Homo sapiens: one gene and its partner. The protein of the gene in region 1 interacts with the protein of each later gene in a pairwise test. Each region holds a gene or a part of one and is shown in the gene's direction. Other genes may lie near its edges.

Region 1 (8,282 bases):
CAGTTGGAGTTGACAATTCAGTTCAGTGACGGGGGGGACTTTTTTTTTTGAGGCAGGGTCTCTGTTGCCCAGGCTAGAGTGCAGTGGTGCAATGTCGGGTCATTACAACCTCAGCCTCCTGGGCTGAAGCAGTCTTCCTGCCTCAGCCTCCCAAGTAGCTGGGATTACAGATGCCCTCTACCACGCCTGGGTAATTTTTGTATTTTCAGTAGAGACAAGGTTTCTCCATGTTAGCCAGGCTGGTCTCATACTCCTGGTCTCAAGTGATCCACCTGCCTCGGCCTCCCAAAGTGCTGGAATTACAGGTGTGAGCCACCACACCCGGCTACCAGGGAGAATTTCTTACCACCTAGTTCAGTGGCAGATCATTAATGTGTCCAAATAAACATGTCGTGCCTTCCCCTGCTCTGCCAGCTCATTTTTTCTTTCTTTCTTTTCTTTTTTTTTTTTTTTTTTTTTGAGACAGTCTCACTTTGTCCCCAGGTGGGAGTGCAGTGGCATGATCTCGGCTTACTGCAACTCCACCTCCTGGTTTCAAGCAATTCTCCTTCCTCTCTCAGCCTCCCAAGTAGCTGGGACTACAGGTGCACGCTACTACACCCAGCTAATTTTTGTATTTTTGGTAGAGACAGGGTTTCACCATGTGAGCCAGGATGGTCTCAACCTCTTGACCTCCCAAAGTGCTGGGATTACAGGCATGAGCCACTGCACCCGGCCAGCCAGCTCATTTTATCTGCGGAAGTGGATGTGTAGATAGTACTACATCTCCAACATGGAGGTGGTCAGAACTGGTAGGTTTGGATTTCCACCTTAGTAGCCCTGAATGTTTGTCCCAGTTAGGATTTCGTGATAGAAGATACCTGCTTGCATTATGGTATTGCCAAATGTAATAGCCATCCTTAAGTTTCTGAGGGTGTTAATGAGATTTTTATGGAGCAAAGAGAGCTTTAAAGTATGATGCCCTCATAAACTCAGCTATTCTACAAATAATAGCTGTTAATGCATTACATTGTAATTACTCTATCAAAGTTTATTCCTCTGACTTGAAATTTTAATCTAGTTCAAATCCTTCAGCATATGTCCTATCCATTTATAATCTGCTATTTTTTAACTGGTGAAAGATGAACTAAAAACTACAGTGGAAGAAAGGAAGTCTTCAGAAGCCTCCCCCACTGCGCAAAGAAGTAAAGATCACAGTAAGGAATGCATAAACGCTGCCCCAGATTCTCCGTCCAAACAGCTTCCAGACCAGATTTCATTCTTCAGTGGAAATCCATCAGTTGAAATAGTTCATGGTATTATGCACCTATATAAGACAAAGTAAGAAAACCCTCTTTTCTTGGGGGTTAGTCAATTTTTTTTTTTTTTTTTTTGCTTTGCTTTAGCATAGTCTCTTGTCCTGAAGGAAAGTGGGTATTTTAAGCTTCAAAATAATAATACTTTTGTCTGTTGTATGTTAGAGAATTCTCAGATGTTTTACATTTGATTAATCTTGTGGATTGGGTCAAAGCTTTTCCTTATAAAAGAAATGCTTGTGGATACACTTAAGAGAATATGTGGGAAAAATGTTTTCTTTTTTTTTTTTTGAAATGGAGTTTCGGTCTCGTTGCCCAGGCTGGAGTGCAATGGCGCGATCTCAGATCACTGCATCTTCTGCCTCCTGAGTTCAAGTGATTCTCCTTCCTCAGCCTCCCAAGTAGCTGGGATTACAGGTGCCCACCACCACACCTAGCTAATTTTTTGTATTTTTAGTAGAGATGGGGTTTCACCCTGTTGGCCAGGCTGGTCTTGAACTCCGACCTCAGGTTATCCGCCCGCCTCAGCCTCCCAAAGTGCTGGGATTACAGGCGTGAGCCACTGCGCCCTGCCAGGAAAATGTTTTCTTAGCAGATAGGCATGGAAGGTGATGGGGAATTGAAAGGACAAAGAAAATGATCCACAGCATCTTTGTAGTCTCATGTCCCCACCAAATCTTTACTGAAGAGGCTGCTAAGAAGTCAGTTAACTCATTACAATTTTATTACCTCTTTTTTACCATTTTCTGTGGTTCAAACAAAGCTTGCTAGAGCCCCAAGGAAAGGAAGCATTTGGCTAGATAATCCACAAGCCCAGCCACTACCTTCTTGGGTAATGGTAGCTGATACCTTAAGGCTGTTCTTGTGCTAACTCATTTGCCAGATCTCTACTGGGAAAACAGTGACTATTCAGGTAGCCATTTTGTTTTTTGTTTTGTTTTTTGTTTTGTTTTTTGTTTTGTTTTTTTTTGAGACAGGGTCTCACTCCATAACTCAGGCTGGAGTGCAGTGGTGCAATCCTGGCTCACTGCAACCTCCCCTCCCGGGTTCAAGCAATTCTCCTGCCTCAGAGTAGCTGGGACCACAGGTGCACACCACCACGCCCAGTTAATTTTTTTTTTTTTTTTGGCAGAGATGGGGTTTCATCATGTTGGCTAGGCTGGTCTCGAACTCCTAACCTCAAGTGATCAGCCCACCTCAGCCTCCCAAAGTGTTGGGATTACAGGTGTGAGTCACTGCACCCGGCACAGGTAGCCATTCTGGATCACAGCTGTCAAGTGAGTTTGCAGCATTTCAAAAAACAAATTGCATTGTGGGAGGATTTTCTTTCCTCTCTATTCCAGCCATCTCAACTTGGTAACACTTCCTGTAATCCTCAGTTACATCCTCATGGTTTAGAATTCTCTCTTGCCGGGCGTGGTGGCTCACGCCTGTAATCCCAGTACTTTGGGAGGCCGAGGCGGGGGATCACGAGGTCAGGAGTTCGAAACCAGCCTGGCCAACATAGTGAAACCCCATCTCTACTAAAAATACAAAAATTAGCCCGGCGTGGTGGCACGCGTCTGTAATCCCAGCTACTTGGGAGGCTGAGCAGGAGAATTGCTTGAACCCAGGAGTCAGAGGTTGCAGTGAGCCGAGACCATGCAGCAAGACTCTGAAAAAAAAAAAGACAGAATTCTCTCGTATATTTAGAGCTGTTTTTTTAGGCCTTTTAAGAGAGGTCCATAGCCAGAGTTGTGCTTTTAAGTTAACCAGTGACAGATTTTTTTTTTTTTTTTTTTTTTTGAGATGGAGTCTTGCTCTGTGGCCCAGGCTGGAGTGCAATGGCGCGATATTGGCTCACTGCAAGCTCTGCCTCCCAGGTTCACACCATTCTCCTGCCTCAGCCTCCCAAGTAGCTGGGACTACAAGCACCTGCCACCATGCCCGGCTAATTTTTTTTGTATTTTTAGTAGAGATGGGGTTTCACCGTGTTAGCCAGGATGGTCTCGATCTCCTGACCTCGTGATCCACCCGCCTCGGCCTGCCAAAGTGCTGGGATTACGAGCATGAGCTACTGTGCCTGGCCACCAGTGACAGATTATTATTCAAACATTGATGAGAGTAAAACACTGCAAATTTACCGAATGCAGATTTATAACCGTAATAAATGTTGAACTGAAGATTAAAAAGTCCAATGGGGGGTATAATATAGAACAGTTCATTAATGAAATATTACAATTTTTATTTTTTCCTGTTTTCTTGGACATAAAAGTTGTCTAGTATTGTTTAAACTAACCATACCTCATCTATTCAAGACACTCTAATTTTTTTTTTGTTAGTAAGATGACCTCCTTAAAAGAAGATGTGCGGCGCAGTGCCATGCTGTGTATTCTCACAGTCCCTGCTGCAATGACCAGTCATGACCTTATGAAGTTTGTTGCCCCATTTAACGAAGTAATTGAACAAATGAAAATTATCAGAGACTCTACTCCCAACCAATATATGGTGCTGATAAAGTTTCGTGCACAGGTAAAAGTTATTAAATTTATTAAAAATCTCTTTGCCACAGAAACTGTGGTATTCAAACTGTATGATAGCTGTGTGTGATTTACAACATTTTGCACTTAAGATTCTTGAGATGTCTTCTAAGATATAATTGTAATTCTAGATGTATTTCTAAATTCATTAGCAGAAATACAATTATAACGTATACACTTTTTTTTTTTTCGGTAGAGATGAGATCTTGCTGTGTTTTCCAGGCTACTCTTGGCCTCAAGCAATCCTCCTGCCTTGGCCTCCCAAAGTGCTAGGATTACAGATGCTCTGAGCCACTGCACCTGGCCTCATGCCCATGATTTTTTATAGATCAGATTGAGTATGAAGTTTAGGGTTTTGCAAGGAGGCAGAGGTTGCAGAAAGCTGACATCACACCACTGCACTCCAGCCTGGGTGGCAAGAGTGAGACTCCGTCTCAAAAAAAAAAAAAAAAAAAATCTAGTGTGTTTTTTTGTTTGTTTCTTTTTGAGACGAATTCTCGCTCTGTCGCCCAGGCTGGAGTGCAGTGGTGTGGTATCGGCTCACTGCAACCTCCGCCTCCCGGGTTCAAGCGATTTTCCTGCCTCAACCTCCTGAGTAGCTGGGACTACAGGCATGCACCACCATGCCTGGCTAATTTTTGTATTTTTAGTGCAGACAGAGTTTCACTATGTTGGCCAGGCTGGTCTCGAACTCCTGACCTTGTGATCCACCCGCCTCAGTCTCCCAAAGTGCTAGGATTACAGGCGTGAGCCATCATGCCCGGCCTGTTTGTTTTTTTAAACAAGCGGTAACTATTCCAGAAAAGCGGTGGTTCCCAGACTTTTTGAAGTTAACACCATCTTATTATTTTTCCATTACCCCCACTTCTTTCATTTTTTTTTTTTTTTTTTTTGAGACGGAGTTTCACTCTTGTTGCCCAGGCTGGAGTGCAATGGCACGATCTCAGCTCACAGCAACCTCCACCTCCTGGGTTCAAGCCATTCTGCCTCAGCCTCCGGAGTAGCTGGGATTATAGGCATGCACCACCATGCCTGGCTAATTTTGTATTTTCAGTAGAGGCGGAGTTTCTCCATGTTGGTCAGGCTGGTCTCAAACTCTGGACCTCAGGTGATCTGCCCGCCCCAGCCTCCCAAAGTGCTGGGATTACAGGCGTGAGCGACTGCACCCGGCCTCATTCTCTTTTTAGTGGGGGAAGAGTGTACCTGTTCTGTGATCTCCAGAGAGAAGCTTTAGTGTGGAGTTCTGTCTGCAAGAGAGTACACAGTTATTATGTTTTCTGTTTACAAAGTACCCCATCATTTAGGGAGACATTTAAAAGGTTTCAATTATCCTTTGGATTTAAAGTTTACAAGTTGACATTAAGAACAGAAAAGCACTTGAATAGCTCCTTTCACTGTCCATCAGAAAGCCTTCCAAGGGTGCCAAGGAGCTTTGCAAACCATGGGAAAATCGTGCCTTAAGCCATTTCAGTCTGGTAGCACATGTAATAATAAGGATAATGATGATAATATCCAACGTTTATCGATGGCTTCTGTATCACTCACTGTGCTAAGTGTTCAATACACTTTGTCTCATTTAATCCTCACTACAATCCCTTGCGGAAACTGTGTTGTTATCTTTGTTTTACAGATGAGGAGGGTGACTGCAGAGGGAGATACATGGTTTGCCCAAGGTTACATAGCTAGACATAAATGACAAGCAAGAGTGTGGCACCCTCACTTTTAATTCCAGGGACGCGTTCCTCTTCTAGTAGGAGTGGGATGAAGGTGTGGGGAAGGGAGGCGGTTGTTTGTGAGACATTCTATGACAGCAGTATTGTTACAGTTTCTACTTAACAACTAGGGCAATAAGCAAGTAACAAAGGAAAAGACCCAGAAATAGATTGGGAAAAAAATGTTGAAGAGCACTCAGGCTTTTGAAATAGTCTGAAGTCGTATAAATCCACCACAGTCACCTGTTTAATAAACCCACACAGTTCCCTATAACAAGTACTGCCCTTCATAATGTGCAGGTAGTACTGTGGATATTTACTGTGAATGAATTTTCCTTGTACATCTGCACTATCCTTCCCCTTGTGTCTTTTGATCAAGTGAAGGTTGCTCAAGTTGACATGTTTTTCTGAGACTGCGAAACAGGTTGCTGCATGCTCTTCCCCATGGGGCTAGAACCCTTTATCTTGGTATCATGAGTTGTATTATTTATTGCTAACTCTGGGTCTTAGGGGCTAATCCCTATCATCCTAACAGGGATTTTCTAATACCTAATAATACCCTCTTGGTGTAAGACTGGAAGTTAAACTAATATCGGCTGTAGTGAGAATAATAGGCTCAGTAGCTACCAACTCTGAAGCACTTACTAGAGACCGGACCCTGTGCCAAGTGCTTTCCATGCATTGTCTCCTTGAATCCTCTCAACGATGCCATGTTGGCCAGGTGCAGTGCCTCATGCCTTTAATCCCAGCACTTTGGGAGAGACCAAGGTGGGCGGAACACTTGAGGGCAGTGGTTTGAGACCAGCCTGGCCAACATGGTAAAAGCTTATGTCTACTAAAAATATAAAACTTAGCTGGATGTGGTGGCGCACGCCTGTAATCTCAGCCACTTGAAAGGCTGAGGCAGGAGAAACTATTGAACCTGGGATGTGGAGGTTGCAGTGAGTCAAGATCACACCACTGTACTCCAGCCTGGGCAACAGAGCGAGACTCTGTCTCAAAAAAAAAAATGCCATGTATTTTACAGTTGAGGAAACAGGCACAGATAAGTCACTTGCCTGCAGCCAAACAGCTAGTAGGTGTCAGAGTTAGGGTTCAAACCTAGGCAGCCTGACTCCATAGCCTGGGCACCTAACTATGTTTTTATTCTTTTCCTCACCACAGATTTTTAAATAAGGACTTATAAGCCTTCTCTTTATCTTTGGTAATTTTTGAATTTCTGTTGGCCTTAGCTTTAGCTGAAAGAGTTGTGAGGCCAGGTGTGGTGGCTCATGTCTGTAATCCCAACACCTTGGGAGGCCAAGACAGGAGTATTGCTTAAGGCCAGGGGTTCAAGACCAGCCTGGGCAACATGGCAAGATCCTGTTTCTTAAAAATTTTTTTTAAAAGATCAAAAAAAAAGGGGGGGTGTGCTTACCAATTTGTAGTGTGACCCTTAGGAAACTTGGTCTTTGGGTAGAGAATTTACAGTTCTTCAGGACATAGGAAAAGCAGAAGGAAGTTCAATTTTGTTGTTCTTGGGGGCAGAAAAGGACAGATGACCACTTAATAGAGTATGTTGGCTTTTTTCACCTGCGTGCTTAGTTACCACAGCCTTAGCAGACACCTCCTTGGAGAAGTAGAGGTATGTTCTCAACACTGTAGTTGATTCCTGTGACAGCGAAGGAACTTGATCATAATGGATTTGTCTTTTTCTGAGTTAATCCTCAGAAGAGAACAATAAAACCAAAGGACTAGAGGGAAACAAAAGCCAGGTTTATTTAAAGTTTTGGGTCCACACAATGCAAACATTTTCAATAAAAGCTGTTTCTGCAATGTTCTTGGCAGTTAGCTTCAGGCTTTTGTTTAGTGCATTTAGATGGTGAGTTGAAGTAGGAACCATGTGTAGTTTGTTCCCTACTCTCTACCTAGTACATAGCACAGGGCCTGGCACATACTAGATGCTCAGAAAATATGTGAACAGGTGAAGGTGCATTTCTAATACCAAGATTTTAAAGAAGAGATCAATATGTTAATTGGGAAATCTCAGCTGTTTAGTGATGTTGTCATTACAAAAAAGTACTTTTTCTTTTTACTTTTTTCATTTCTGCCACAATCATCCTAGTGTAGGCCACCATGACAACTCACCTACATGCTTCTTCTCCTTTTTTATTTTATTTTATTTTTTTTGGAGACAAGGTCTCACTCTGCTGCACAGGCTGGACTGCAGTGGCACGATCTCGGCTCACTGCAGCTTTCACCTCCTGGGCTCAAGCTATCCTCCCACCTCAGCCTCCCAAATAGCTGGGACTACAGGCTTCCACCCCCATGCCCGGCTAATTTTTGTATTTTTTGTACAGATGGGGTTTCGCCACGTTGCCCAGGCTGGTCTCAAACTCCTGGGCTCAGGTAGCAGAAAGGAATAATTCATTGAATGGTTTTGGTCACATGCCTTATCCTTTCCTGTAGAGGAGGCTGGTCGTTTAGTGAGCATTTGCAGAGCTCTAGACCCCAAGAGGGCTCTACCAGCCACTGGTGGTGCCTGAGGCTCTGAAGAGGTGAGAGAAGGCCCTGACTTTCAGGCAGTCCGTTTTCTCCTGGTGAATCCATGTGCTGACTTTGCTGCTTACTTAGCCAAAAGCATTTCAAGAAACCGTTGCTCCTGAAGAATGGGGGAAGCCATATTAGGTTGTAACCTCTTAGTATTAAAGAGGCTTCTTCTCCAACAGCTGGCTTTAAACATTTTCAAATTGTAATGCACTATGCTCAATACACGG
Region 2 (7,640 bases), on another chromosome or scaffold:
CTGGTGCGCCCGCCCGGGCCCGCTGGGTCCCGCCGAGGTCCGCGCGGCCCGGCCCCGCCCTCTGGTCCCCGGCGGCGCAGCATCCTCTTCCTCCTGGCTGCCGGGCCGCGGCGCCCCGTGGCCCCGGTTCCCGCACCAGCTTCCCGACTCGCCGCCGGCCCGGGGAAAAGGGGTGGGCAGGGCCCGGCGCCCCACGCCTCCCGGCCCCCGGCCGCTGTGCATTTTTGAACTCGATGAACGGAGCCCTCACCGCACACACAAAGCCCTTTCTTTCTTCTCCTGGGAAGGGACGGGGTGGGGGAGGGCCTCGCAGATTGGAACGCTTGCTTTTTTCCTAAAGCGCAGAAGTTTTAGTTCGGGAACGAGGTGAATCATTGGCATGTGTCTCCACACAGTGTGTCTGGTGGTTTCCGTCACATGGGCCCCTCATTTTTCTGGGGGAAACCTAGACCCAGGGCCTGAAAGATCCAAGTGTCGACAGTGAAAAAAGAAACGCCACGGGCGTGCGCGGGTGTCAGGGTAACGGTGGACCAGGCTCGCGCCGGCGAGACTTGCCCGAGACCCCGGCTTTCTTGAAAGTAACGCTGAGCGAAGTACCAGGACAAACCTCTTCCTAGTCACTTGGAAAGAAGAACTTTCCGAGTTGAAGTAGGATAGCGGTTAGTGCCTGTCCGGTGGAAAGGGCTCCAAGAAGCTTCTGAAACCCCGTGAAGGAATTTGGGAGGGATTTTTCTTTTCAAAAAAAAAAAAGTTTATTAAAGTTTGCACGATTGGCAGTTTTGTTCACTCGCAGCTTCTGAGCATTTGGTTCACCTGCTTTTGGAGTGAATTTACAGCGAAAGTTTGGTTGACTGTGAATGCGTTTGTTCCCAGTGCTTCCTGAAGATGATTTCTTCTCATGCACGTAGGATTTTATGGGCAGTAAAGGGAATCCGTCAGTTGACGGTATTCGCTGGGCAGGTTTGATAAGTCGAACTGCAAAATACCTGTGCAGTTCTTAGGTTAATAAGCAAAAAATGGCAAGTGAAGAATGAGTAAAGAGGACATTTTATTCTTTTATCGTCATGTTGCAAAATTATCCAAATATCTTCCCCACAAAGACAGCATCTGTTTCAACTGCTAAATTCTAAATAAAATATTTACACTAAAAACAAAGATTTAGCTTCCATATTCTGTGTGGGCGCGGAACACAGTGCTGTTCTCTCCTATCAGCTGCTTGGACAACTCCCAAAAGAGCGAATGGCCTCAGGTGGGCTGGCTGGGCTTTTGGGGATGAGAAGCTGAAGACAGGAATAAAAATAGTACAGTCCTCACTGAAGAGCGGATTGTTTTTCTTCAGGGTATGCCTTGAAAAATTCATATGTAGATGAGCTATACCAAACGAATCATTTTGATATTAGTAGCGGTTTTGAAGAAGAGGAAGGGCATTCTGGGTGGCTCTTGTTAAATACCTAGCCTTCTCTTCAGTATTTTGATTTCCCTATGTCTTCTTGGAAGGGTCTCCAATTTTTCAAAATGTGTTGTAGGAGTGTTCTGAGTATGCGGATTGTCCATTATATCATTCAGAAGGTCACACTTGGATCATAGAAAAGCCAGAGAGGTGTTATTATGACCTGTGTTCTGGTATCATATTAGTAGTAATATGCAGTGAACAACACTTTGCTATCAGCAGGTATAGAAAGGCAGTCCTGTTGTGTTTCTTCATTTATGAATAACTGATTAATAGGTTTGCAATTAAAAGATAAAAAGTCTGATTTTATTAGATGAGTGACAGTATTTCAAAACCATGTAGATTATAGCCAACTTGAAGGAGGCATTGGAAACCATGAAAATGCAATAGGCCCTTCTAAATAAAACATGAAGTTCTGCACTGAATTTCCAACTTCTGTCTTACATGCATACTAGTACTTTAACCAACAAGATGTAAAAGATATTGCTGACATGACTGTCAATTTGATATAATTTGAAACTTGTATCTCAGGAAAGTCATTTACCTAAGGCAGATAAAAACATGAAGACACAATGTCAGTTAGGTTTGGAGTCTGTATTTTCAACCAAATGCTTAAAAATACAGATTACCAGGACATTTCTATTAACAGTTGAATTTATTGTGTGAATTCTCATAATTTAGTACCCTGAAGGAATAATTATGTTTACTTGAAAAAGTATGCTGGGTTTTTTGTTTGTAGGAAACTTCAGTGTAATTGTCCTAAGAATCCATCTCCTGAGAGTAGGTACCATATTTCTAGCTTCAGTGGAGCAGGTCCTGGTTGGTCTACTTACCTCCTCTAAAGTACATTAAACCTGTTAAACACCGAAAAGATTCACTTTTCTATTTGTAAAAGCTGGAAATATATTTTGAAACATGGAACTCCTTTACCCCTCCTGCCTTTCAAAGCCCTAGCATCAAAATTCTATCAGCCCACATACAAAGTTGACAAACTTATTCTGTCCTTATGGTACGAATCTTCTGGATAACCCCTTCTATTTAATGAAATAGAGAATTGAAGCCAGTTATTAGAGGCATGGATGGACAGACAATTAAATGAGTCACTCTTTCTGCCCCATTTATATTATTTGGATATTTGTCTCAATTCCTGAGAGTAGACATGGTACTTGAGTAGATTACCTGACTCAAAATAGTTCTCCTGTCAGCTTATTTTTAGAGGCAGCAAATCAGTTGCATCAAATTGGTCAATTGTGACCTATTTCTATTTTTCTTGCTGGCTATTTATTCTCTTTCTTGTGGTGCCTCTCTGATGGAAGTTTCTCGGCCATTTTACCTAATAACAAACAATTTTTTTTTGAAATTTACTCCAAAAAGCACTGTAAAAAGGAAAAAGTGGTCCACTATATAAAGGTGTGATATATTCAGTAAGAGCCAAGTTATAAAGCTGGGAAGGAGAGAGGGGAGCACTTAGTCATTTAGATGGCCAAGTTAAACACAAGACACAATTAGGATATCTGAACCCTCAGGTGTTCATAAACCCATACCAGGGACCTCTGGAGAGGAGTGGTGGGAACCAGGGAGAAAGAGAGCCCCAGAAGTGCCTTGTTTAACTTGGCCGTCACAGTAGCTAACCCTTTGTAACTTGGCACATTTTGAAGTTATCACACTTGTGATTGACCTTTCCCCCATTTACCTTCTTTTGTACTTAGGAAGGTTTATTTTATTTTATTTTTGAGTAGAGTAATTTATTTAGAAATGTAATAGAGTGGCAAAACTTAGTCTGCAATTTAAAGAAGAAATGTAAACTATAGAATTTGAATGTAAAGGCAATGGATTTTAAGCCTGAAACCTTTTGAAAGTAAGAAAACCTGTGTATTAGGCTGTATTCTCTAGTGGAAAAGCTCTAAAAATTGTAGGTGTTAGAAAAGCCACCTCAGGGAGCTTGTACTGGCCCTGAAATTTAATAGAAACATTAAACTCTGCAGTCCTTATTTAAACACATTTTTTTCTCTTATGTTCAAAGTCAAAATATATATACTTACGGGTAGACAGGTGAAGTATAACCAAAAAAAAAGTGTTTCTCTTATATTTCATATGTTTCATTTCTTAGACAAAAAAAAACCTCATCAGTAAAGATTGAGTTTTGATTTTGGAAATGATGACATAATTAGAAAAAAAAAGCCCCCAAGTTTGTGTGTAAAGGTAATTGTTTTAAGACAGTGCAGTGCTTTGCTTTTAAGAATTGCAATATGGCTTTCCCTCAAAATTATTTTTAGATAGGTTGTGACTCCCTTTTTTCATGATTAGATTTTAACCTAAGGTAAGTTTTTTAAAAAATAAGAAAAGATACATACACACACAAATTAGAGAGAGAGATTTTTTTTCATGATTGTACAGGCAAAAATACTAATTGGCATACAGAAATGTATGCTTTACTTTTGGACTTGTATGCTAAAAAGCCTGATTATTGGAAACACTGCAGAAGCTCAAACAGTGTTTGACATCCATACTCCTTCAGACACTTGCAAATGTTCTTCTATTTATCTATCAACCAGTGACTGTTTCTTCCCTCCACCACCTTTAAATTATACTGACTAGATGTTGAAGTCATTAAATTCATTATAGTCCAATCAGTAGACAATCCGACATAAACAAAAACAGCAATTACAGTTGGCAAGGATCCCATGAGTGCTAGTCAAAGTTCCAGAACTGATGGTCCAGTGAGTCTCTTCCAAAACGCCGGTTTCACGATTTCAGCACTTCTGGCAGCATCTTCCTAAAGTGAGGGCACACAAATTCATAAGATTCCACTTGGCCTTAAAAACAAAAACATCTGTTTTATGCATGAGTGGATTGTTGTCTTTTATTCATCCAGCCAAAAAAGGACAAAAAATAGGATACTGAACATAAAAGCATACATGTAAAAATGAAATTACAAAGGGATTTGAGATTAGCAAGCAGCCTTTTATAAAGCAAGCTGTTAATAATTTTTCTTTTTTGTTTTGCCAGAGTATTTCCATATCCTTTAAAAACCACTGTAGTTATCCTTACTGACAGCAGTGACGTCTAACAGTGATGACAGAATTTTTCAACTTTTTGCTTCCGGTAATTATACTTAGTTCTTTGTACTTGCTTATTTGGTCTAGTGCAAGACTCGTAGCATATTTGTAGGAGATTTCTTTTCACCTTAGAGGAACATTTGTACCTGCCTCCCTCTATTTTTAAAGGAGTCTGTTTGTGAGGGCTCGTTAGTCTGGTAAATTCTAGTTAAATACTTGTTGACATAAGTTGAAGCATATTATTAAGTATACTTGCTTGAGTTTTCATTTTGATGTAAAAGCATGTAATAAGAAGAAAGAGGTTTTGATAGTAGAAAAGAGTAGGTCTACTAAGATCAATTAAGAATTTTATTAAGGGTCTCTTTTTCCTATTAATGTGTTTTATTAATTCATCTGTCAGGATTCACATTGCTGGTTTACTGTCATTAATTCTGTTGCCACAGAATACATTCCTCATGGCTGGATTTAATGGATACTATGTTCAGTTTTTCAGTTAATTTTAAGAGGGAAAGTGATTTTAAGACTTGCAGTATTTGTTTATTTTAGCAGCTGTCTGCATCATTAAAAATGTAAATATTATCATTAAGTAAGATGTGAAAGAATGCTTTTGAATTGAATGAGATTTTGATACAAAGGCTGATATTCCACGTCAAACCTGTAGCTAAGTATTTTCCCAGATGTATTTAATTTTTTTCTTCATTGACTCCTGTTGTGCTGTCAAAGGTTAAAGTTAGTTCTAGGGGTGGGGGAGATGCATGCAACTTTCTAATTCCATTTCAATTAAATCTGAAATGTTCCTGTTTTTTGTTTGGGGACTACATGGTGCTAGGATTGCATATACCTTGTTTGTTGTAGTGAAAGCGTACTTGTCTGATTTAAAATATGTTCTGCAACAGTGTTATTACAAAGCAATTAAAACTTAAACATTAAAGTTAACATTAGTAAATTTAAATAGCTCTGTTATAGTATTAATCAAATAGTGTAAGGAAAGCTTTTAAATGGTTTAAATAATTATGCAACTCCTGGCATAAAAAGCCCGACACAAGATAAATCTCTGAAAACTAAGTAGAATCGCAGCTTTTTTTTTTTTTTTAATAAAAAACTTTAATTTTAGGCACCTTGGGCTTTTAGCATGCATCACATTCCACCTCTAGTATAAGTAATTATGCCAGTTTAGTAATTATTAGAGATGAAAGAAATTCAGTAAGATATGAATTCTTTAAAACTTCAGTAGCTTCAGTTTTAGCAGGGATAATGATCAAGCAGCAGTTATCCTGCTGCCTGGGGACCCTGCCACAGCTACAAGCACTGGGCTGATCTTGTGGGTATCATTATTATGGCAGCACATACTATAGTTAGTATTTCTACTCTAGTTGTCAGATTGCAGAGGTTTATAATTTGGTCATTAAACAAATTTAGATTCCAATATGACTGTGTAAAAACTCCCCTTTCTTAGAACACTTTTTAAAAAAAGATTAAGTTTAAAAATTATTATTTTGGGGCAGCATCTCTTTTAATTCTATGGGATAGTAAATGCTTTGAAAAATCCTGAAAAGAAAAAAAATGTGTATGCCTGTCATTTTTATGTGTGTATGTGTTAGGTACGTGTTCATTTTGAATCTTATTTTTAAATAAAGATGATTTGGTTTGGAAAGCATATATACTATTCCCGCATGATCATAGCTCTCCCAATCTGAGCAAGGTCAAGTGATTGACATTCAGAATATTTGTTTTCATAATAGTGCAGTTTGTTGGATTTATATTTCAATATTTTGGTTATGATAATTTTTTTGTATATGTGAAACCCAAGAGTTTACGTCCCTCAGTTATCACAACATATTGTGACACACACATACATAGTCTATATACACGGAAACATACTCTAAACCTTCTGTAGGAAATGCACTTTGTTTAGTAAGTCCATATAAGTGTTAATAATGTTTTAAGGGAAAAATTGGATTTTTTTCCAATTAAAATTGGTGTCAAAGAATAAGATTTCCTTTTTGAAATTAAAATCAGCGTATCATTGAGTCTCATTATTTCACTGACTTTATTACCTTCTCTTTCCATCTTATGATTGGCTTTTTCTCAAAATTTATTATCCCATCAGTATACTGTGAAGGATATGATATGTCAAGATGGAAACTTATTTACCTGATAGGGACAAAATCCTCATTGATTACAGACAGTTCCATATATTCATACAAAATACATTTGTTGAAACCTGTAGTGAGGTGAACAGTCCACACAGTAAACTATAACTTGCCATATTATAGGAGTTTCTGTGACCTGGAATCTAAAAAATATCACTGTGCTTTAAACTTTATATTGACTTCAAGAAACAATTTCCAGCATTTCATACGTGTTCTTAGCTAATATTCTTATCTTTCACAATAGAGCCAGATTAGGTCCAGTTAGTGCTTGAATAAGACTACATATTAATTGCTTTCAGCATTCCTAATGATTTAGGTTGTCTTAGTTGTGTTAAGTTTATCAGACATATGCTTTTTATTACCACTATCAGCACCTTTTGTCTTTCATTGATTACTTTTATACATTAAGAAAAAGAAGGCCAGGCGCGGTGGCTCACGCCTGTAATCCCAGCACTTTGGGAGGCCGAGGCGGGCGGATCACGAGGTCAGGAGATCGAGACCATCCTGGCTAACACGGTGAAACCCCGTCTCTACTAAAAATACAAAAAATTAGCCGGGCGTGGTGACGGGCGCCTGTAGTCCCAGCTACTTGGGAGGCTGAGGCAGGAGAATGGCGGGAACCTGGGAGGCGGAGCTTTCAGTGAGCCAAGATGGCTCCACTGCACTCCGGGCTCCAGCCTGGGCGACAGAGCGAGACTCTGTCTCAAAAAAAACAAACAAACAAACAAAAAAAAAACAAAGGAAAGAAAAGGAAAAAGGCTGTAAAGTCTTCACAAACATTGATCTACCAAGTACTAATGAAGCCAAAACAGAATCATTGCTTGAATGCTGATGTATGGAGTCTGAAGTTCCTATACATAGGGGGGTTTGGGGTTGTCAGTGTGCAACTTGCAAAGTTGTATGATGTTTTGCAGACATGAGGCAAGGGTTAAGAAGAACTGTGGGCTCAAGGGAGTGCATATTAATTCCTGGAAAGAG

The links. Proteins that work in one complex are often made in the same cells at the same time.
Region 2: the proteins of BRAP (region 1) and ZNF521 interact in a two-hybrid assay, tested with the Homo sapiens proteins (one study listed by BioGRID and IntAct).

The regions. Positions count from the first base shown.
Region 1 is NC_000012.12:111,674,675-111,682,956, reverse strand, and holds part of BRAP (BRCA1-associated protein), read left to right. Parts: intron 1-1,121; coding exon 1,122-1,320; intron 1,321-3,616; coding exon 3,617-3,806; intron 3,807-8,282. UniProt on the Homo sapiens protein: Negatively regulates MAP kinase activation by limiting the formation of Raf/MEK complexes probably by inactivation of the KSR1 scaffold protein.
Region 2 is NC_000018.10:25,342,167-25,349,806, reverse strand, and holds part of ZNF521 (zinc finger protein 521), read left to right. Parts: intron 1-4,459; exon of another isoform or gene 4,460-4,555; intron 4,556-7,640. UniProt on the Homo sapiens protein: Transcription factor that can both act as an activator or a repressor depending on the context. Involved in BMP signaling and in the regulation of the immature compartment of the hematopoietic system.